Linked DNA regions of Homo sapiens: region 1 is linked to region 2. Evidence: fine-mapped expression QTL. A gene starts in region 2. The other region holds a variant in brackets. All regions are shown on one strand. Distances are between the middles of the regions. Region 1 overlaps GANC (glucosidase alpha, neutral C). Region 2 holds the start of ZNF106 (zinc finger protein 106).

Region 1 (8,000 bases), 190 kb after region 2:
GCACAGTCTCTCATGGTTTCCTTTGGCTAAGGGAGGGAGTTCCCTGATCCCTTGTGCTTCCCGGGTGAGGCAATGCCCCACCCTGCTTCGGCTCGCCCTCCATGGGCTGCACCCACTCTCTAACCAGTCCCAATGAGATGAGTCAGGGCACTTCAGTTGGAAATTCAGAAATCACCTGCCTTCTGTGTTGATCTTGCTGGCAGCTGCAGGCCGGAGCTGTTCCTATTCAGCCATCTTGCCAGCCACAGCATACCACATTTTCTTTCTTTCTTTCTTTTTTTTTTTTTGAGATGGAGTTTCACTCTTGTTGCCCAGGCTGGAGTGCAATGGCATCATCTTGGCTCACTGCAACCTCCACCTCCCAGGTTCATGTGATTCTCCTGCTTCAGCCTCCCTAGTAGCTGGGATTACAGGCATGCACTACCACGCCCAGCTAATTTTGTATTTTTAGTACAGACAGGGTTTCTCCATGTTGGTCAGGCAGGTCTTGAACTCCCAACCTCAGGTGATCCACCTGCCTCAGCCCCCTAAAGTGCTGGGATTACAGGCATGAGCCACACACCCAGTCCCATATTTTCTTTATCCAGTCTATCACTGATGGGCACTTGGGTTGGTTTCATGTCTTTGCTATTGTAAATAGTGCTGCAATAAACATACATGTGCATGTGTCTTTATAGTAGAATGATTTATATTCCTTTGGGTATATACCAAGTAATGGGACTGCTGGGCCAAATGGTATTTCTGGTTCTAGACCCTTGAGGACTCACTATACCATCTTCCACAATGGACTAATTTACATTTCCACCAAGAGTGTAAAAGCATTCCTATTTCTCCAAAGCCTCGCCAGCATCTATTGTTTTTTGACTTTTTAATAATCATCATTCTGACTGGTGTGAGATGGTATCTCATTGTGGTTTTGATTTGCATTTCTCTGATGATCAGTGATGTTGAGCTTTTTTTCATGTTTGTTGGCCACATAAATGTCTTCTTTTGAGAAGTGTCTGTTCATATCCTTTGCCTATGTTTTGATGGGGTTGTTTTTTTATTGTAAATTTGCTTAGGTTCCTTGTAAATTCTGGATATTAGCACTTAGGGTAGATTGCAAAAATTTTCACCCATTCTGTAGGTTGCCTGTTTACTCTGATGATCGTTTCTGTTGCTGTGCAGAAGCTCTTTAGTTTAATTAGATCCCATCTGTCAATTTTGGTTTTTATTGCATTTGCTTTTGGCGCTTTCATCACGAAGTCTTTGCCCACGCCTATGTCCTGAATGGTATTGTCTAGGTTTTCTTCTAGGGTTTTTATGGTTTTGGGTTTTACATTTAAGTCTTTAATTCATCTTGAGTTAATTTTTGTATAAGGCATATGGAAGGGATCCAGTTTCAGTTTTCTGCATATGGCTAGCCAGTTCTCTCAGCACCATTTATTGAATAGGAGATCCTTTCCACATTGCTTGTTTTTGTCAGGTTTCTCGAAGATCAGATGGTTGTAGATGTGTGGTGTTATTTGGTTATTTCTGAGGTCTCTGTTCTGTTCCACTGGTCTATATGTCTGTTTTGGTACCAGCACCATGCTGTTTTGGTTACTGTAGCCTTGTAGTATAGCTTGAAGTCAGGTAATGTGATGCCTCCAGATCTGTTCTTTTTGCTTAGGATTGTCTTGGCTATACGGGATCTTCTTTGATTCCATATGAAATTTAAGGTAGTTGTTTCTAATTCTGTGAAGAATGTCAATGGTAGTTTGATGGGAATAGCATTGAATCTATAAATTATTTTGGGCAGTAAGAAAACTTCAGGCCAATATCCCTGATAAACATCAATGTGAAAATCCTCAATAAAATACTGGCAAACCGAATTCAGCAGCACATCAAAAAATTTATCCACCACGATCAAGTCAGCTTCATCTCTGGGGCAAGGCCGGTTCAACATATGCAAATCAATAAACGTAATCCATCACATAAACAGAACCAAAGACAAAAACCACATGATTATCTCAATAGATGCGGGAAAGGCCTTTGATAAAATTCAACATCCTTCATGTTAAAAACTCTCAATAAACTACATATTGATGGAACATATCTCAAAATAATAAGAGCTACTTATGACGAACCCACAGCCAATATCACACTGAATGGGCAAAAGCTAGAAGCATTCCCTTTGAAAACTGGCACAAGACAAGGATGTCCTCTCTCACCACTCCTATTCAACATAGTAATTGGAAGATCTGGCCAAGGCAATCAGGCAAGAGGAAGAAATAAAGAGTATTCAAATAGGAAGAGAGGAAGTCAAATTGTCTCTGTTTGTAGACGACATGATTTTATATTTAGAAAACCCCATCATCTCAGCCCCAAAAAAATCCTTAAACTGATAAGCAACTTCAGCAAAGTCTGAGGATACAAAATCAATGTGCAAAAATCACAAGCATGCCTTTACATCCACACTAGACAATCAGAGAGCCAAATCATGAATGAACTCCCATTCACAATTGCTACAAAGGGAATAAAATACCTAGGAATACAGCTAACAAGGGATGTGAAGGGCCTCTTCAAGGAGAACTACAAACCACGGCTCAAGGAAATAAGCGAGAACACAAATGATAAAACATTCCATCCTCATGGATAGGAAGAATCAATATTGTGAAAAGTGCTCTTTTGAAGATACATGTGATTGGGGATGAAGAGAGAGAAGATTTCTGGAGTGTCCATTCTTCACAATTCAACAAAATAATCTTTTAAAAATAGAAATAAGACCATGCATCTCTGCTACTTAGAACCGTTCCAGAGTTTTCCTTTGCTCTTAGGAGAAACTCAGAAAGGTTAACATGGCTTGGAAGAAGGTAAGCTGCATGATAAATGGGGGACTTATATTTTTCAATGATGTCTCACCAATTCCATGAACAGTGCCTGGGATATAGGAGGTACTTAACAAATAATTGTTAGATAAAATAATTATTACAAATCTTTCCACAGCACTGCCCTGCGTGTCTTTCTAGCCTCGTTACATACCACCCTCCCCTTTGCTTTCCTTTCTCCAGATGAAATAAATATATATTGCATACATATTCCATTTCTTCAAATGGAATATGCTCCATCCTACCTCCACATCTTTGAATATGCAGTTCCCTCTACCTGGAACATTCTTTTCCCAACTTTTTGACTTGTGTATATACAACTTTTTGACTTGTGTAGACATCAGTTTCGGCTTTAACATTATTTCCCTCAGAAGGTCTTTCCTGACCCTCATCTTGGCCAGGTCCCTTGTATTCTCCTACAGCACCATTTTGTAACACTCCTCATGCTTGTAATTACTTACCCAATGTCTGTCTTTCCCAATAGATTCTAATTTCCATGAGAACATGTTTGGGATTTGTTTTATTCAAGGCTGATTCTCCTTGCCTAGCAATAATGCCTGGCAAAAAGTAGGCACTCAGGAAGCATCTGTTTTTATGAATGAATGAATGAATGAATGAATAAATGAATGAATGAATCAACGAGATGACAAGGTGAGCCGAAGAAACAAGTGGTCCTATTTATATGCAGTCGATCATTTAACAAGCACCCTTCTGTAGAAGGAAGAAAGAGAATTCCTTATATGCCCTATCATGATGATGATGGTGAAAAAGATAACAATAAATGGATCAATCTAGATTACCTGAGAGGTGTCCACTGATGTCTCCTCCTCATTTTCTTTAGCAGCTCTGTTTTAACGTAAATAAAGTTGTTTCACTCAATGGCAAGACTGACAGAATTTTGTTCAATGATAAAGATTTTTCATTTCCAACTTTTGAGACCTCAGTTATATCCTTTAATGTATTAAATATAACATCATTATAAAAATAAAAATGAACCCAGGTGCAGTGGTGCCTGCCTGTAATCCCAGCTACTTGGGAGGCTGAGGCTAGAGGGTCACTTGAGCCCAGGAGTTCGATGTCAGCCTGGGTAACATAGTGAGATCTCATCTTTAAACAATAAAAAACAATTTAAAAATGAGTTTATAAAATTGGACAGTAATGATGAACATTAATCTAATAGCTTCATTTCTTAATGTAGAAGTATTTTAATTTTGTTAACTCTTTAAAAAATACTTTTATCATTTTTTATTATAAATGTTAAACATGCTCATAATATTTCAACAAAATCTAAGTAAGCAAGGTAGAACATAGCTCCCTACACTCGGTGTAACTCTCCTCACTCCCAGAACACAGCACTATAATGTACAGTCTTTCAGAATGATTGTGACAATTTATTCTTCCACCCATAGTTGTATTTCAGTGCTCAGTTCCCCACATTCTTAACATTGCTGGACTTTATCAATCTTTCAGTTTTTGCCAATCTAAAATTGTAGAAAAAATAAATGCATTTCAGTTTGTATTTCTAAGAGCATGAATGATGTAGGCTAACTTTTATACATTTAATGGGCAACATAGTGAGACCATATCTTCCAAAAAAAAAAAAAAAGGAAAAAGAAAAAAAATATTTGAGTGAAAAATACATTACAAAAGAATATATACAGCATACTTTTATTACATAAAAGTTTTTTTAGAAAAGACGAATCCAAATAATATGTTGTTTGGGAATTCATACATATGTGGGAATCCAATTAAAAACCCCAAGGAGTCTGGGTGCGGCAGCTCACACCTGTAATATGGGCACTTTGGGAGGCCAATGCGGGTAGATTACCTGAGGTCAGGAGCTCGAGACCAGCCTGGCCAACATGGTGAAACCCTGTCTCTACTAAAAATACAAAAATTAGCTGGACGTGGTGGTGGGCACCTGTAATCACAGCTACTTGGGAGGCTGAGGCAGGAGAATTGCTTGAACCTGCAATTGGGAGGCGGAGGTTGCAGTGAGCTGAGAT[C/T]GCACCACTGCACTCCAGCCTGGGCAACAAGAGTGAAATTCCGTCTTAAAACAATACAAAACTAAACTAAACCAAACCAAATCAAACCCAAGGAAGTGATTAACACAAAATTTAGTAAACTGGTTACCTCTGAAGGTAAGATATACTATGCTAACACCAATCAAAAGAGAGTAAGAGTAGATATATTAATTTCAGACAGAAGAGATTTCAAAGCAAGGAAAATTTGGGGGGATAAAAAGGGATATTACACAATGATAAAGGGATCAATACTCTAAGCAGACATAACAATCTTTTTTTTTTTTTTTTTTGAGACAGAGTTTTGCTCTTGTCGCCCCGCCTGGAGCAATGGTATGATCTCGGCTCACTGAAACCTCCACCTCCCAGGTTCAAGTGATTCTCCCACCTCAACCTCCCAAGTAGATGGAACGACAGGCACATGCCACCATGCCTAGCTAATTTTTTTGTATTTTTAGTAGAGACAGGGTTTCAGCATGTTGGCCAGGCTGGTCTCAAACTCCTGACCTCAGATGATCTGCCTGCCTCAGCCTCCCAAAGTGCTAGTATTATAGCCATGAGCCATTGTGCCCAGCTCAACGTAACAATCTTTAATGCGTGTATGAGTCTAACAGAGCATCAAACTATATAAGGCAAAAACTGATTTGTTGAGCTTTTTAGTCATTGTTAGGATGGAGTAGTGACTTCTAAGCTCCTTACATGCCAGACGGGAAACTGGAAGTCCTTGACTTTTAATTTTGTTCACGCTGTGTGTGTGTGTGTGTGTGTGTGTGTGTGTGTGTGTGTGTGTGTGTGTCTATAATAAAGCTTTTTTTCTTCTTGTGTTGCTTTCTGAGTAGAATCAAAGCTTAAAATGTGTAAGTAATCAAATCCATCAATCTTTTCCTTATGGCTCTTCAGTTTATGTCACACTCTCACAATTACAGAAATATTGTTTTATATTTTCTTCTATTTTTATGTCTTTTTATGTTTAATTTTTATTCATCTGCAATTGATTTTTGTTAATGTTATGAGGTTAAAATCTAACTTAAAATTTTTTCCAGTTAGATCATCTGATTTTCCTAACACAAATATAATTATAAATATAAATGTAAATCATGGAACTATAGCTACCAGTACAACCTCTATGGAAGGCAATTTGGCAATACCTATGAAAACTACAGGCGGGGCGTGGTCGCTCATGCCTGCAATCGCAGCACTTTGGGAGGCTGAGGCGGGCGGATCACGAGTTCAGGAGATCGAGATCATCCTGACTAACACAGTGAAATCCCATCTCTACTAAAAATACAAAAACAAAATTAGCCGGGCATGGTGGTGGGCGCTGTAGTCCCAGCTACTCGGGAGGCTAAGGTGGGAGAATGGCATGAACCCAGGAGGCAGAGCTTGCAGTGAGCCAAGATCATGCCACTGCACTCCAGCCTGGGTGACAGAGCGAGACTCCATCTCAAAAAAAAAAAAAAAAACTACAAATGCACAAACCATCTGATCAACAACTATCCTTTTATGACTCTATACTATAAATATACTTGTATATATGCACAATGACACATATTCAAGGTTATTAGTAAACTAACTAGTTGTAAAACAAGATTAGAAACAACTTTAAATCCCTCAATAGAGAATTTACTCAGTGAATCATGGTAAAGCCATACAACAGAAATTATGTAGCTGCTTTAAAGAAATTAAGAATTATCACATTGTTAACAGAAAAAAGCAAGGTGTAGAATAATGTGTAAAGGTGGCGCCATTTGTGTCAGGAAAGGAAAAGTCAAAGAATATATATAAAATGTGTATACATAAATTGTTTCTGAAAGGATACACAAAAAACTGGAAACACATTACTTTTTTTTTTTTTTTTTTTGAGACAGAGTCTTGCTCTGCTGCCCAGGCTGGAGTGCAATGGTATGATCTCAGCTCACTGCAACCTCCACCTCCTGGGTTCAAGAGATTCTTCTGCCTCAGCCTCTTGAGTAGCTGGGACTACAGGCATGTGCCACTATACCTGGCTAAATTTTTGTATTTTTACTAGAGACAGGGTTTCACCATGTTGGCCAGGCTGGTCTCGAACTCCTGACCTCAGGTGATCCACCTGCCTCGGCCTCCCAAAGTGCTGGGGTTACAGGCATGAGCCACCACACCCGACCAGAACACATTACTTTCAACGATGGAAAGTGGGCAGCTAGAGGACACAGGGGGAAGGAGATTCTTTACTATTATTACATAGAAATGTGTATTAATATATACTCCTTTGTACCATGTGCCTCTTCTACATAAGTAAGTAAAAGGATCAACTTAGATAGGAAAGAAAACAATGTTTAAAAGAAAACAGAACAAAATCATCGGGGTTTACAAAAGAAAAAAAAGCGTTTTTTGTTTGTTTGTTTTGAGACAGAATCTCGCTCTGTTGCCCAGGCTGGAGTGCAGTGCCACAGTCGCAGCTCACTGCAGTCTTGACCTCCTGGGCTCAAGTGATCCTCCTACCTCAGCCTCCCAAGTAACTGGGACTACAGGCATGTGCTATTAAACTCAGCTAATTTTTTTGTATTTTTTTGTAGGACAGGGTTTCACCATGTTGCCCAGGCTGGCTTCAAATTCCTGGGCTCAACTGATTTGCCACCTCGGCAAAAGTGTTATGATTACAGGTGTGAGCCACTGTGCCTGGCTAGAAAAAAGGCTTTACATATAAAGAACATGAGTAGTGGGTACACAGATATTTGTTCTGCTATTATTAGTATTTTTCAGTTAAACAAGTACTTGACTATTCATAAGGCACTAAGAGAGTAGGTGGAGAGATTATGGGGATTTTAAATTTTCTTCTTTTCAATATTTTCTAATCTGCCTATGATGAACAAGTATTAGTTCTGAGATGAGAAAATGAGATATTTTTAGTATCAAAATTTTAAAACAGAAATGAGTTGAAACTCAGAAAAATGACTATGTTGGAATAATGAATGTTGAATGCTTTCTGCAGATCATATAATACGTTTATTATCATGATAAAAATAGAAAGAACTATAGACTAAAAGATTTAAAAACAGTGTTCGTAAGAATGGAATAAGAATCTCCTCCTTACCACCACCTCCTAATTCATGTGAGCACCCCACATAAACAGCTTTGATCAAGCAGATGG
Region 2 (15,064 bases):
GGAAGGCATGATTGTGTTTTGAACTGTGAGGACATGAGATTTGAAAGGGGCCAGGGAATCTGGGCGTGGTGGCTCATGCCTGTAATCCCAGCACCTTGGGAAGATGAGGTGGGTGGATCATGAGGTCAGGCGTTTGAGACCAGCCTGGCCAATAGAGTGAAACCCCGTCTCTACTAAAAAATGCAAAAATTAGCCAGGCGCGGTGGCTCACGCCTGTAATCCCAGCACTTTGGGAGGCGGAGGCCGGTGGATAACCTGAGGTCAGGAGTTTGAGACCAGCCTGGCCAACATGGCAAAACCCCATCTCTACTAAAAATACAAAAATTAGCCAGGCCTGGTGGCAGGTGCCTGTAATCCCAGCTACTTGGGACGTTGAGGCAGAAGAATTGCTTGACCCTGGGAGGCGGAGGTCGCAGTGAGCCAAGATCGCGCCACTGCACTCCAGCCTGAGCGACAGAGCAAGACCCCATCTCAAAAAAAAAAAAAAAAAAAAAATTAGCCAGGTTTGGTGGCACACATTTGTAGTCTCAGCTACTCAGGAGTGTGAGGGAGGAGAATCGCTTGAAGTGTTGGAGGTTGTAGTAAGCCAAGATCGCGCCACTGCACTCCAGCCTGGGTGACAGAGTGTGAGACTCCATCTCAAAAAAAAAAAAAAAGAAAGAAAGAAAGAAAGGGGCCAGGGGCAGAATGATACAGTTTGGCTATTCATAATCTCATCTCGAATCTGGTGAGAGGTGATTGGATTATGGGGGTGGTTTCCCCCATGCTGTTCTCATGATACTGGTTTTATAAGGGGCTTTTTCCCCTTCACTGTCTCTCTCCTGCCATCCTGTGAAGAAGGTGCTTGGCTTCTCCTTTGCTTTCCACCATGATTATAAGTTTCCTGAGGCCTCCCCAGCCATGCAGAACTGAGAGTCAATTAAACTTCCTTCCTTTATAAATTACCCAGTCTCGAGTATTTCTTTTGCTTTTTGTTTTTTTTTGAGTTGGAGCCTGACTCTGTCTCCCAGGCTGAAGCTCAGTGGCACGATCTCGGTTCACTGCAACCTCTGTTTCCCAGGTTCAAGTGATTCTCCTGCCTCAGCCTCCGGAGTAGCTGGGATTACAAGCATATACCACCACGCCTGGCTAATTTTTGTATTTTTAGTAGAGATGGGATTTCATCATGTTGGCCAGGCTGGTCTCGAACTCCTGATCTCATATGATCCTCTCTCCTCGACCTCCCAAAGTGCTGGGATTACAGGCGTTAGCCACCAAGCCCGGCCTTGGGTACTTCTTTATAGCAGTGTGAGAACGCACTAATACAGACCCCATTCCAGGAGATGACAAATAGCAAAAGGCAAAATGATACTCCCTTCTTGACTTTTTTTTCCTCTCCCACTTTTATGTCTTTACGTTTCCTCCTACCATCAACTGCCTTTCCTAACATTGTGGTGACTGATTAAAGAAGAAAAAAAGGACGAGATGAAACTACACTTTACAGTACTTTTTCCCCCCACCACTCCAATCCCGAATTGTGAAATTCATTCTTTTCCTGATCCTCTAATTTGTGCAGTAATGCCGCGAGGTAAGGCTGAACCTTTCTAGAGAGCAAGGGCTATCCAATACCAGGAACCTCAGAGTCCTTCCTCAAGCCATTATCTCAGAGCTATCTGATCACTGTGGTCACCATACAGGCAGTCTATTAATGTCAACTACAGCAACACAGTAAGGGTGAGGGGCGGAAAGTGATCTCTGTTTAATTTCGAGGAAGGGTCCAGAGAATTACCATCCAGCTACCCTTCCTCCACTGGTCCCTCGATGTTCTCCCGGCACCTCCCGTCCTCTCTCCGGGCCCATCTGCCGAGTAAGGGCCAGAGAGCCCCCTCCTCCGCTTAAGCCCGACCCCACCAACTTTTCAACCAATACGATACACTCTTTCTTCTCAGGACATAGTCTCAGACTTCATCCCGGCCAGCTCCCTCCGTCCCACTCCTGGAGACTCACCAAGCGGGCGAGGCCACTCCTCTCCGGCGGCAACTCGGACACCCCAACACCGGACCTGGCGCTGCACCCTAGTCGCGCCTGCGCGCGCCGAGCCCGCGCGCCTGCTCACTTCCCGTTCGCCGCGGACACAGACACACCCCTGCAGCTGGAGCCAATCACGGTGCTGGGGGTTTAAATGTCCCTGCCACGCAGACGGAGAGTCTGGGAATTCACTAGTTAACCGGATAGATTTCAGTCCTGCCCGAAGCTGGGAGGTGTTCATGCAATAAACATTTACTGAGGGCAAACCGTATGCCAGGCACTGTGCTGGATGAACGCTGAAGAAAAGAAAGCGAATACAGTGCTTTCCCTGCTCTTCATCGCCTTTCAATATGTCTAGACTAAGATATAGATATGTAAACAAATTATAGTGGATAGAATACAGTGCATAGCACATAGAAAATTTGAGGCGCCTTTGGCTGATAATGAACAAAGCGTTTTATTCTTAGGGGTGTCTGGAAGGGTTCCCGGAGGAAGTGACTTGAGTCATGAAGGATAAGTAGGAGTTCCCCCGGAAATCCGGCAGAGAAAGAGCTAGAGTTTTCCAGGCTCTGGGGAACAGCTTATGTCGAGAACAGCATAACGCCTTCTGGAAATTTCTAGTAGTTCATCCTTGTTAGAGGCTTAGTGCTAATCGTACATCCCCGAGTGTAGAGGAAAGAAAGCTTTAGAAGGCCAACAATCGCTAGATCTTGGAAGGCCTTGGAATTTTAGACCACTTTGTACTAGGGGCACTGAAAGCTATTGAAGAGTTTTAAGCAGATGGAGGATTATTGTAAACTATTTGCTGCAGGAACCCCTCCATGCACCTCTAAGAATAAAATAAACTGCTGGAAATCAAGAAAAGAAAGTGCTTCACCAGGCACAGTGGCTCACGCCTGTAATCAATCCCAGCACTTTGGGAGGCTGAAGCGGGCAGATCACGAGGTCAGGAGTTCCAGACCAGCCTGGCCAACATAGAGAAACCCCATCTCTACTAAAAATACAAAAAATTAGCCGGGCATGGTGGCAGGCGCCTGTAATCCCAGCTAGTCGGGAGGCTGAGGCAGGAGAATCGCTTGAACCTGGGAGGCGGAGGTTGCAGTGGGCCAAGATCATGCCATTGCACTCCAGGCTGGGCAACGAGAGTGAAATTCCGTCCCCCCTACAAAAAAAAAAAAAAAAGAAAGAAAAAATAGCTGGGTGTGGTGGCGGGTGTCTGTAATCCCAGCTACATTACTATCATAATGTCTATCACTGGCGACAGTGCCAGACTCCATCTCAAAAAAAAAAAAAAAAAGTGCTTCAAGGAGTAAGTAGTCTATTCCTAAGGGATCAAGGAAGATGAAGCCTGAGAAATGTTTTTTTTAATTTCATAACACAGAGGTCACTGATTATCTCAGTGAAAGCTGTTTGTTGGAATGCTGGGGTTGAAAAAAACAACTTAGTAGTTTGGAGGTGGGGGAGATGTAGAGATGGGGACAAGTTGTAGAATGCTTTTGGAAAGTTTGGCCTTGACAGGGAGGAAGGAGGGAGAATGATGAAGGATCAAGATTTTTTGTTTTTGTTTTTTTGATTTTTGTTAGAATTAAGACAGGAGAAACTTGAGCATGGTAGGGAAGATTCAACTGAGAAAAAAATGGTTGAATAAAGGAAGAGAAGGGATAGTCAGTAGGCAAAGATCTTGAAAGGGTAAGAATAGAGGCAGTTTAGAGGCAGTTCGAAACACTGGTAAGAATAATGGTTTTGGAAGAGGGCAGGGAGGGAGAAAGAGAGAGAGAGGAGATATTTCCCCAATTATGAGAGGAAGTATGTTTCTGTATGTTTAGTAACAGGAAGTTAAAGTTCTCATTTGCTGACTTGTTTTCTCTGTGAAGTTGAAGATGGGGTCATCTTCTGATAGAAAAGGAGGTGGTATTGGGAGTTTAAAGGAAAGCTGAGAAGATTTGGAATATTGTAGAAAGTAATACAACAAGTTGACAGAAGAATGTTGTAGGACTGGTAAGCAATATTGAGGGCCTTTTTAATATGGGCAAAAATGAACTCACCATTTTCTGCCCTCCTGTGTAAATTTCTCAAGCAGCAGTCACTTGTTGAGGGCAGAGGTGGAGAAAATGTATGGTTGAGTTCATTAGTTCATTTAGGGTTGTGATGGTCATTGATATAATTCCGTGGTTCTCAACCAGGGACGATTTTGTCCTCCGGGGGATATTTGGCAATGTCTGGAGATGCTTTATTGTGATGACAGGGAAACGGGGGTGGGTACTACTAGCATCGTGTCCAACAGTGCTGCTAAACATACATACACACACACGCACACACATATATGTATATATATATAGAGAGAGAGAGAGAGAGAGAGAAGGTCTTGCTCTGTTGCTCAGGCTGGAGTGCAATGGTGTGATGTCAGCTCACTGCAACCTCTACCTTTGCAGCTCAAATCCTCCCACCTCAGCCTCCTGAGTAGCTGGGACTACAGGTGTGCACCACCACTGCCGGCTAATTTCTGCATTTTTTGTAGAGACACGGTTTCACCATGTCACCCAGGCTGGTCTCAAACTCCTGGACTCAAGCGATCTGCCTCCCTTGACCTCCCAAAGTTATAGGATTACATGTGTGAGCCACTGCTCCCAGTCTGCTGCTAAACATCTTATAATGCACAGGATACCCCTGACAAAAAAGTATATGTTCCAAAATGTCAGTAATCCCAAAGTTGAGAAACCATAATCTAGCGTTACCTTGGCACTCACCAATATCTGACTGTGGTCTTCTACAGGCTTTTCCCTGAATGATGGCCCAGAGTTTATAGGGTAAAATAGTTCCTCCATTGCATGCCTTTGAAGGAGAATAGAATGAGCAGCGTACCACAACCCTTGAGTGTTTCAAGGACTTGTGATGTCACAAACACGGAATTGGAAGTTTCCTAAACCTCTAGAACAAATCTGGATTTACATAGAAGAGGTTAATATAGCCGCTTCCTTTCTTTTTTCTCTCTCTTTTTTTTTTTTTTTTTTTTTTTGAGACGCAGTCTCGCTCTGTCGCTAGGCTGGAGTGCAGGGGCGAGGTCTCGGCTCACTGCAACCTCCGACTCCCGGGTTCAAGCGATTCTCCTTCCTCAGCCTTCCGAGTAGCTGGGACTACAGGCACGCACCACCACGCCCAGCTAATTTTTGTGTTTTTAGTAGAGAAGGGGTTTCACCATGTTGGCCAGGATGGTCTCGATCTCTGGACCTCATGATCTGCCCACCTCGTCCTCCCAAAGTGCTGGGATTACAGGCGTGAGCCACTGTGCCCCACCGCTGCTTACTTTTATTTGAGACGTTGAAGGTCTTGTTAAACAGAGATGTTATAATCTCAATAATATAGGAGGGACACTCCACATAATTATCAACCTGAATGTCATTTCATTTATCTGATAGTCTTAGTCACTAAAATTAGGTTTCTGAGGGAATGGGTATGGGCTAAGTTTAATAATAAATATAGGCGGCCGGGCGCGGTGGCTCACACCTGTAATACCAGCACTTAGGGAAGCCGAGGTGGGCGGATCATTTGAAGTCAGGAGTTTGAGACCTGCCTGGCCAATATGGCGAAACCCCATCTCTACTAAAAATACAAAAATTAGTTGGGCGTGGTAGTGCACGTCTGTAATTCCAGCTACTTGGGAGGCTGAGGCAGGATTATCGCTTGAACCCGGAAGGTGGAGGTTGCAGTGAACCAAGAGAGCGGTTCTGCACTACAGCCTGAACGACAGAGCAAGACTCCATCTCAAAATAACTAACTAACTAACTAACTAAATAAATAAATAATAAATGTAGGCTGGGCGCGGTGGCTGACACCTGCAATCCCAGAACTTTGGAAGGCCAAGGCAGGCAGATCACTTGAGCCGAGGAGTTTGAGACCAGCCTGGGCAACATGGTGAAACCCCGTCTCTACTTAAAAAATATTATAAATACCTTAGGCATGAGTAAGAATAAAGTCAGTATTATGGAATGTCTGCTCTGTGATAGGCAGCATTCATAGATAAACACTTGACCTATGTTATTTAATCCTAGCAACACCCTGTGAGATAACATTATCCTAATTTTAACTCAAGAACCTGAGGTTCCAAGAAGAATTGTAATTTACCCAAAGTCACAAATTATTCGTAGCTAGTCCAAGATCTGAAACTCAGGTCTGGCTGTTCTAAAGCTCTTGCACCTTCCATTCAACTTCAGAAAGTTTTACAAGGAAGGAGTGTTTTCAAAATGTAGCCCGAACAGTTGCCACTGACTAAAGGAAATGGCGGGACACCAAGGAAGAGAGTAGGAGCTACAGGGAGGCCGGGAAAGAACAAGGAGAAACAAGGAGAATGAAAAAGGGACCAGGGAGGCTGTTCATAGCGTCCAACGCTGCGTACTGACTCTCCCGCAAGCGGGCCTGCCTTTGTTCTTCCTCCATTCTTTTTGAGAAAAACCTCTTCCTGTGTGTCCGTTGTTCACTCTCTTGTGTTCAAATAAAGCTAGATTATTGAGAACTGCGGACGGCAAAGGAAAAAAAAGCGAGCGTGACGGCTTCGGTGTGCGCCTGCGCGTTGGCGGCGGCTGTGGCGGGGCCCGGCGGGGAGCGGGTCCGGAGCAGGCTCCCGGACCCAAAACTGAAGGGGGCGTCTGAGGCGTCAGGGAGCTCCCTCGCCTGGCTCTCGGCGGCCTGATGGAGTAAGAGGGGTTGGCTGTGAATGTGAGTATCGACGGGCCGGCCTGCGTTGAGCGTATCGGAGCCCAAGGGTCCTGGTCGTCTGCCCCTTAGGGAGGTTGTGGGGCTGCAAGACACCACCGGGTTTCTACTCCTGCAGGCTGCGGCTCAGGGGCAACCTGGTGGTCCACTCTCCCAGAGCCGGCGCGGGTTTATGGGCAGGCGGTGCTGCTGGCTTCGGGGTACGGATTTTCGCGGGGGCGTTCCAGCTCTGCTCCCAGCCCCAGAAGGAAACGTGGCTCCAAAGCCTTGACCTTTAGGGGAAGCCACTGACCTCCTTCGTCCCCAGTTGGGCAGGGAGTCCAAAGACCCTGGTCCTTAAAGCCCGTAGGTCTCAGGCCAGGGACACATTTCAACCTCTCGCGACTGACAACCTCCGTTCTTTTTCCTCCTTTCGTTTCTCTCCTTGTGGGATGCGTCTTGATAATAACAACTAATAACAAATAGTAACAACAGCTTACTGTGTCCGTTTAATATTTAGTCCGAATCTCGGTGTATAATTGTGGAGAGGAAATGCTTTACATCCTCTTCCCCTTTCAATTTGTTGTGTAATCATCTTTGAGAGTAAGATTAAGGCATCTTATTGAGAAGTTTGAGATATCCGTGGCTTTTAGCAACTTGAGACTGTCATCCTAGGTAAGCGAAGTTCTCTTACCTAGCAAATAAGTGCTGTATCCACCATAATGGTTTATATCCAGTTTATTCAAAGCACAAATAACTTCTTTTTTTTTTTTTGAGACAAAGTTTCGCTCTTGTTGCCAGGCTGGGGTGCAGTGGCGCGATCTTAGCTCACTGCAACCTCCGCCTCCTGGATTCAAGCAATTCTCCTGCCTCAGCCTACCCAGTAGCTGGGATTACAGGCACCCACCACCATACCTGGCTAATTTTTTGTATTTTTATTTATTTTTATTATTATTATTTTTTTTAGGACGGAGTTTCGCTCTTTCGCCCAGGCTGGAGTGCAGTGGCGGGATCTTGGCTCACTGCAACCTCCGCCTTCCAGTTTCAAGAGATTCTCCTGCCTCAGCCTCCCGAGTAGCTGGGATTGCAGGCGTGCACCACCACCACGCCCGGCTAATTTTTGTATTTTTAGTAGAGACGAGGTCTCACCATGTTGGCCAGGCTAGTCTCCAACTCCTGACCTTAGGTGATCCACCCACCTTGGCCTCTGAAAGTGCTGGGATTACAGGCTTGAGCCACCACGCCCGGCCCACAGATAACTTTTGAGTGCTTATTAAGAGCTTAGTACTGTTGTAAATAGCATGGGAAATCTTAAAATTTGCTTTAAGCCCCGTTCTCAAGTTTGGTCGTGAATGAAATAATGAAAGACAATTTTCAGATGCAACTAGAATTTATTTAGTATCTACTACACATTTGCCAATACCGCGCCATGCCTAGAGTTAACTCTTGAGTCTAGAAGATAGTAGGAGCCCTTTAATTAGAAATACTAGATGGTTTTCGAGGAGAACTTTAAAATGGCCTGGAAGGGGCCAGGCGCGATGGCTCACGCCTGTAATCCCAGCACTCTGGGAGGCCGAGGCGGGCGGATCACCTGAGGTCAGGAGTTTGAGACCAGGCTGACCGACATGGAGAAACACCGTCTCTACTAGAAATACAAAATTAGCTGGGCATGATGGCACATGCCTGTAATTCCAGCTACTTGGGAGGCTGAGGCAGGAGAATCGCTTGAACCTGGGAGGCGGAGGTTGCAGTGAGCCAGGATTGTGCCATTGTACTCCAAAAACGAAACTCCATCTCAAAAAAAAAAAATTAAAAAATAATAAAAAATGGCCTGGCAGGAGGTAGAGGGTGTGAACGAATCTGATCAGGCTAGTTCAGAACCTATTGTGTGTGTGTGTGTGTGTGTGTGTTGTTTTTTTTTTTTTTTAGAGAGAGCCTTGCTTTGTCGCCCAGGCTGGAGTGCAGTGGCGCAATCCCAGCTCACTGCAACCTCCGCTTCTTGGGTTCAGGTGATTCTCCTGCCTCAGCCTCCCGAGTAGCTGGGATTACAGGTGCCCACCACCATGCCTGGCTAACGTTTTGTATTTTTAATAGAGACGGGGTTTCACCATGTTGGCTGGGCTGGTCTTGAACTCCTGACCTTAGGTGATCCACCCACCTCAGCCTCCCAAATTGCTGGGATTACAGGTGTGAGCCACAGTGCCCGGCCTCAATTGTTTTGATTAAAAGGAAGATATTTAAAAAGGAAAGACTATGAATAGTGATTATTGTACATCTAGATTAGTGCACGTGTAGTCTGAAGGCTGCTCTACAAGAGTTGAGAGGAATGGAAGATGCTAGACGACTTGGTTCTGGGACCAGGAATGGCTCAGTGAGAAGTCTATGTATTGTGTGTTTTGTAATTGGGAGTATCTTAGTGGAGAGTTTAGGATTAATTTCTGTACCCAATGAATAAGAGCACCTGGGCAGACAAGTTACATATGAATGCTCTACTTGGACCTCTAGCATGTGAAATCACTAGTGGAAACTCTACAGTCGAGTGTGTGTGTGTGTGTGCATGTTTGTGCATGTTTTAATCTGAAAGAAACTATCAAGAAGCTCCCAGGTCTTCATCAGTGAAGGATTGGTTAAATAAATGTATGAATTTGCTAGAAAGAATGAGCCAGCTCTATATGTGCTAATATTGAGTGACCTCCCATATAGTGAGAAAGAAAAGGTGCAAAAGAGGGTGTGCATTTTGCAACCACTGTGGTTTTATAAAAATATTATGTATTGCATATACAATTGTTCCTCCATATCCGTCCATGGGTTCTGCATCCATGGATTCTACCAACTTTGGATGGATAATATTTGGGGAAAAAAAATTCACAAATTTCTGAAAAGCAAAACTTGAATTTGCTACGTGCTGAGTACATACTACATTGCATCCACATAAATGAAGTTATGTGTAGGCATTGTATTAGGTCTTACATGTAATCTAGAGATGATTTAAAGTATACGGAAGGTATGTGTAGGTTACATGCATATACTGTGCCATTTCATATAAGGGTCTTTAACATTCTCAGATTTTGGTATTGAGGGGGATCCTGGAACCAATCCCCCATGGATATCGAGGGACAACCATATATGCATAGAATATCCTCTGTGGAGGATAGTCAAAATCATAGAGACAGAAAGTAGAATGGTGGTTGCTAGGGGTTGAGGGAGGGGGAAATGAGTTATTGTTTAATGGATATAAAGTTTCAGTTATGCAAGATGCAAGTAGTTATGGAGACGGATGGTAGTGTTGGTTGTACAACATTATGAATGTATTTAATACCACTAAACTACACTTAAATGGTTAAGATGGTAAATTTTATGTTTTGTATTTTCATGCAAAAAAATTGAAAAATATCTCTGGAAAACAAATAAGAAACTCACAAGAGTGGCTGACTGGAAGTGGCGGTGGCTAGGAAACAGGAGGGGGTAGTAATAGTTTTTCCTAAAAGCTTTTTTTTTTTTTTTTTTTTTTTTGAGACAGGGTCTTGCTCAGTCACCTAGGCTGAAGTACAGTGGCATGATCATGGCTCACTACACCCTCAAACTCCTTGGCCCCAGCAATCCTCTTCCCACCTCAGCCTTCTTAGTAGCTGGGACTACAGGTGCGTGCCACCATGCCCAGCTAATTAATAAATTTTTTGTGTGTGTGAAGAGGAGGTCTCACTGTGTCACCCAGAATGGTGTTGAACTCCTGGCCTCAAGTGATTCTGTTGCCTCAGCCTCCCAAAGTGCTAGGATTATAAGTGTGCTGCCACTGCATCCAGGCCATATTTTCCCTATAAGCTTTTTTATTTTATTTTATTTTATTTTTTTAAAGATGGAGTTTCACTCTTGTTGCCCAGGCTGGAGTGCGATGGCACGATCTCTGCTCACTGCAACCTCTGCCTCCCAGGTTCAAGCGATTCTTCTGCCTCAGCCTCCCGAGTAGCTGGGATTACAGGCACCTGCCACCATGCCTGGCTAATTTTTTGTATTTTTAGTAGAGATGGGGTTTCACTATGTTGGCCAGGCTGGTCTCAAATGCCTGACCTGGTGATCCCCCCACCTCAGCCTCCCAAAGTGCTGGGATTACAGGCGTGAGCCACTGTGCCTGGCCAAAAAAATTAATTTTTTAATTGGCAATAAAATATATGTATTTATTGTGTACAATATGGTGCCTTGACATATATATATATAACAAGTCCTCACTTAACATCAATAGGATCTTGGAAACTGTGACTCTAAGCAAAACAGCATAATAACAAAACTAATTTTGCCACAGGTTAATTGATATAAAAAAGAGTTAAGTTCCTATGGCATATTTCTGGTCACAAGAACATCACCAAACTTCTAAATGAAGACCCCAAACACTTCTAATACTAAACATTGAAATAAATGTGAGCTATACGTAGATGTAAAAAAGAGTAGCTTGGGCATGGTGGCTCATACCTGTAATCCTAGCACTTTGGGAGGCCAAGGTGGAGGACACTTGAAACTGGGAGTTCAAGATCAGCCTGGGCTTCAAAGCGAGACCCTGTCTCTACAAAAAATTTTAAAAATTGACCAAGTATAGTAGCGTATACCTGTAATCCCAGCTACTTGGGAGGCTGAGGTGGAAGGATCACTTGAGCCCAGGAGTTCAAAGCTGCAGTGAGCTATGATCATGCCCCTGCACTCTACCCCAGGTGATAGAACAAACCCCTGTCTCTGGAAGAAAAAAAAAAGAAGGGCTGGGCGCGGTGGCTCACGCCTGTAGTCCCAGCACTTTGGGAGGCTGAGGTGGGCGGATCACGAGGTCAAGGGATCTAGCCATCCTGGTCAACATAGTGAAACTCTATCTCTACTAAAAAATACAAAAGTTAGCTGGGTGTGGTGGTACATGCGCCTGTAGTCCCAGCTACTCGGGAGGCTGAGGCAGGAGAATCGATTGAACCCGGGAGGTGGAGGTTGCAGTGAGCTCAGATCATGCCACCACACTCCAGCCTGGCGACAGAGCGAGACTCCGTCTCAAAAAAAAAAAAAAAAGAAAGAGTAATAAAAACAGGATATTTGCCTAATTTTTGGCAAATCAATGGGTGACCACAGTCCCACTGGTGGTGGGCTAAATCAAGGAATAAATATTTCCAAAGTGAAAATTTTAAGGAGCACTGGCTACTACCATGTGGTTAAAAATCAACAAATATGACAGGTGGGTGCTTTCGTACCACATTGTTTATTGTTGTGCATACGTCACACATTTTTATTTTATAATAATTTTTATTTATCCACTCTTTTATTTTCCAACGTCTTTATTCCAGTTCAGTGTTCAGGTGGTCAGAGCCTATCCTAAGCAGCTAAGGTTACAAGGTAGAAACCAACCCTGGACAGGACGCCATTCCATCCCAGGGTGTACTCACACACACACACCCACACTCACTGAGACTGGGACTGTTTAGACACCCTGTTCACCTATCAGGCACTTACTTCGGGGTGTGGGAGGAAACTGGAGACCTGGAAGAAACCCATGAAGGAATAAGGAGAACATACGAAGTCTTCATGGACAGTGGCCTCAGCTGGAAGTAATTTATTTTTTCTCATTAATGTTGTAACAGCATGATATTGAATGAAACAGCATTTTTTGAGGACCTGCTGTACCTTGTGGAATAGCTAGATGAAACTAATTAACATATGTATTACTTATAAGTTTTTGTGGTGAGAACACATAAACCTTGCATCACTTTCTAATGTCCCAGAAGATGTTCATGTAGGTGAAAAATCTGTTTATAATTATCTGAGCCTCAAACCAAATTTGTTTAACATAAACATACAGTATTTTTTTTGTTGTTGTTGTTTTTCTGAGGTAAGGTCTCACTCTGACCCCCCAGGCTGGAGTGCAGTGGCATGGTCTTGGCTCACTGCAACCTCTGCCTCCTGGGTTCAAGTGATTCTTGTGTCTCAGCCACCTGAGTAGCTGGGATTACAGGCATGCAAGCCCAGCTAATTTTTTTTTTGTAGAAACGGGGTTTTGCCATGTTGGCCAGACTGGTCTTGAACTCCTGGACTCTACCGATCCGCCCGCCTCCGCTTCCCAGGTGCTGGGATTACAGGCGTGAGCTACCGCGCCTGGTCAACACAGAGTATTTTTTGCCTGAAGCATAGTTAATGTGTAAATCAAGGGACTGTGCTTTCTTTAGTTCAGAAAGATTATTGAGTTGGTCACTATTTTGGGAAATTATATTGCAGACAGCAATGCTGTTTGTGTTTGTTTTGAGACAGAGTCTCACTCTGTCACCCAGGCTGGAGTACAGTGGCATGATCTTGGCTCACTGCAACCTCTGCCTCCCAGGTTCAAGCAATTCTCGTGCGTAAGCTTCCTGAGTATGTGGGACTACGGGCACGCATCACCACGCCTGGCTAATTTTTGTGTTTAGTAGAGATGGTATTTCACTATGTTGGCCAGGCTGGTCTTGAACTGCCTCAGCCTCCCAAAGTACTGGGATTACAGGCGTGAGCCGCCATGCCTATCCTATTCATGGTATTTTTTATCAACAATATCACATGCCTGTCTATATTAGTCTGATTTTGTAGTAGTCATATTTATAGTTTTATTCTTCTAATATAGTCATGTCTGAGCATTTATATGTTGATATACATGTTACTTTATAACTCACTTTCCTTTAATTTTTCATTTTTATTATAGTTAGCACATTAATTGATATTTGAAGTTTTACATGTGTAAGTAAGTTACAGTAGCTCTGCATTTTATTTCAGGAAGGATAAGAAGGTTATTACAAAATATTTACAACAAAAGGGGGTACAAAATATCTTTAAAGAAAAAATTGTATGGTGACAATTGGGGAAGCTGGCTGATCAGAACACTGGGGATTGTTATAATAAGCCTTCTATTTTTATGTATGAATGAAAATTTCCACAATGATATGTTTTAGGAAAAAAGTTGGGTCTGATGTGATTGAGAATTGCTGCTCTACAGTGTGCCTCAGAAATAGCCACAATTGGGATAAGTGTTATAAAGAAGAGATAGGGTTTCAGAAGAGCAGTGCACAGTGAGGGGTATGACCTAGTCTGGGAGATGAGGGAGTGCTTTCCTAGGCAACTGACATTTGGACTGAGATTTGAAGGATGAGTAATTAACTAGATGAAAAGGAGTAAGAGCTTTCCAGGGAGAGGGACCAGCATATGAAAAAGCCCTAAGGTGGGAGGAGTGTGGTAGGTGGGAAGAACTGAAAATGTCATTTTGTCTGATCACAGAGATCAACAAGAAAGTAGCTCAAACCTATGTAATACACATTAGCAAGGGTTGTGTCAAGCGGGCCTTGTAAGACCTTTTAAATATTTTGATTTATATCTTACATAATTAGATGCCTTTGAAGGGCTTTTAATAGTGAGGGACAAAGGCATAAAACATAAGCATGCATGAGAATAGTTTTTTCAGTGTATGGTTGAGCAAACCATGTATGTGTATGTTTAGATGGAGGCACCGTAAAATTGAGGTAGGCTGGAATGCCGAGCCACCTCATGAACAGCTGCTATTCAGGAGTCACCCAGGTCCCAGCAGACTTTGTCACTAAACCTAGGGCCTCCTACTCCATCGCATGATGGAGGATATGTCTTCTTTGATCAGTCTGTCCCGCTTGAGCATTGCTTGGAGCCATTCGAAGAGGCTGGTGGCTCTCAAAAGTGCAAACATGAGAGTCCTGTTCTGGTCATAGGCTGAGTAAGCTCCTCCTGGCCAATGCCCCCACAGATAACAACTATTATTACATCTGGATGGAAATACATAAAACCAGTAAAATCTACTGGAGAGTTACAAAAAAACCAGGCAGATTCTAGCGGGGAGTTAACACAAGAATGGGACTACTTGGAGTAATTTCCCATTTTCATGGCTTCTAACTTTAGGGCAGGCCCTGATCTATGTCATGTAGGGTGCTTAAAATTCCAATAGTAAACTTTAGTCTTTGTGGCCTGAAGAACCAGAAGATAAAGCTCAAGCAACTACAGCTGTTGGGAAGTGAGAGGAGAATCCTGGAAAGCAGAGAGAGAGGAGAAGCATCAGACTCTGTGAATAAACTCTGCCCAAACCTTGGCAGACTGCTGAATTATGCATATGTGGAGCAGACTCCAAAGAAGCCCAGCTGAGGATGAAATAACTGAGGATTTTGCCGGGCGCGGTGGCTCACGCCTGTAATCCTAGCACTTTGGGAGGTCGAGGTGGGTGGATCACAAGGTCAGGAGTTCAGGACCAGCCTGGCCAATATGGTGAAACCCCGTCTCTACTAAAAATACAAAAAAATTAGCCAGGTGTGGTGGCACATGCCTGTAATCCCAGCTACTCAGGAGGCTGAGGCAGGAG

The links. PIP is the estimated chance that this variant, and not a neighbour inherited with it, causes the effect. A credible set is the group of variants that fine-mapping cannot tell apart.
Region 1: its variant is the best candidate, but not a certain one, in a credible set for the expression of ZNF106 in whole blood (INTERVAL, PIP 0.51).

Annotation. Positions count from the first base shown.
Region 1 is chr15:42,293,306-42,301,305 of GRCh38, reverse strand. GANC (glucosidase alpha, neutral C) reads right to left here. Exons shown (of 24, transcript NM_198141.3): 6 at 3,650-3,695. Among named protein-coding and RNA genes, the nearest start is that of TMEM87A, 24 kb to the right of the region's middle. The variant C/T (reference allele first, on the strand shown) is at 4,856.
Region 2 is chr15:42,482,636-42,497,699 of GRCh38, reverse strand. It overlaps ZNF106 (zinc finger protein 106), which reads left to right and starts at 6,559. Exons shown (of 22, transcript NM_001366845.3): 1 at 6,559-6,720. SNAP23 (synaptosome associated protein 23) reads right to left here and starts at 2,066. Exons shown (of 8, transcript NM_003825.4): 1 at 1,987-2,066. RefSeq lists enhancers at 1,306-1,849, 1,850-2,393, 6,387-6,496, 6,797-6,846, 6,897-7,086.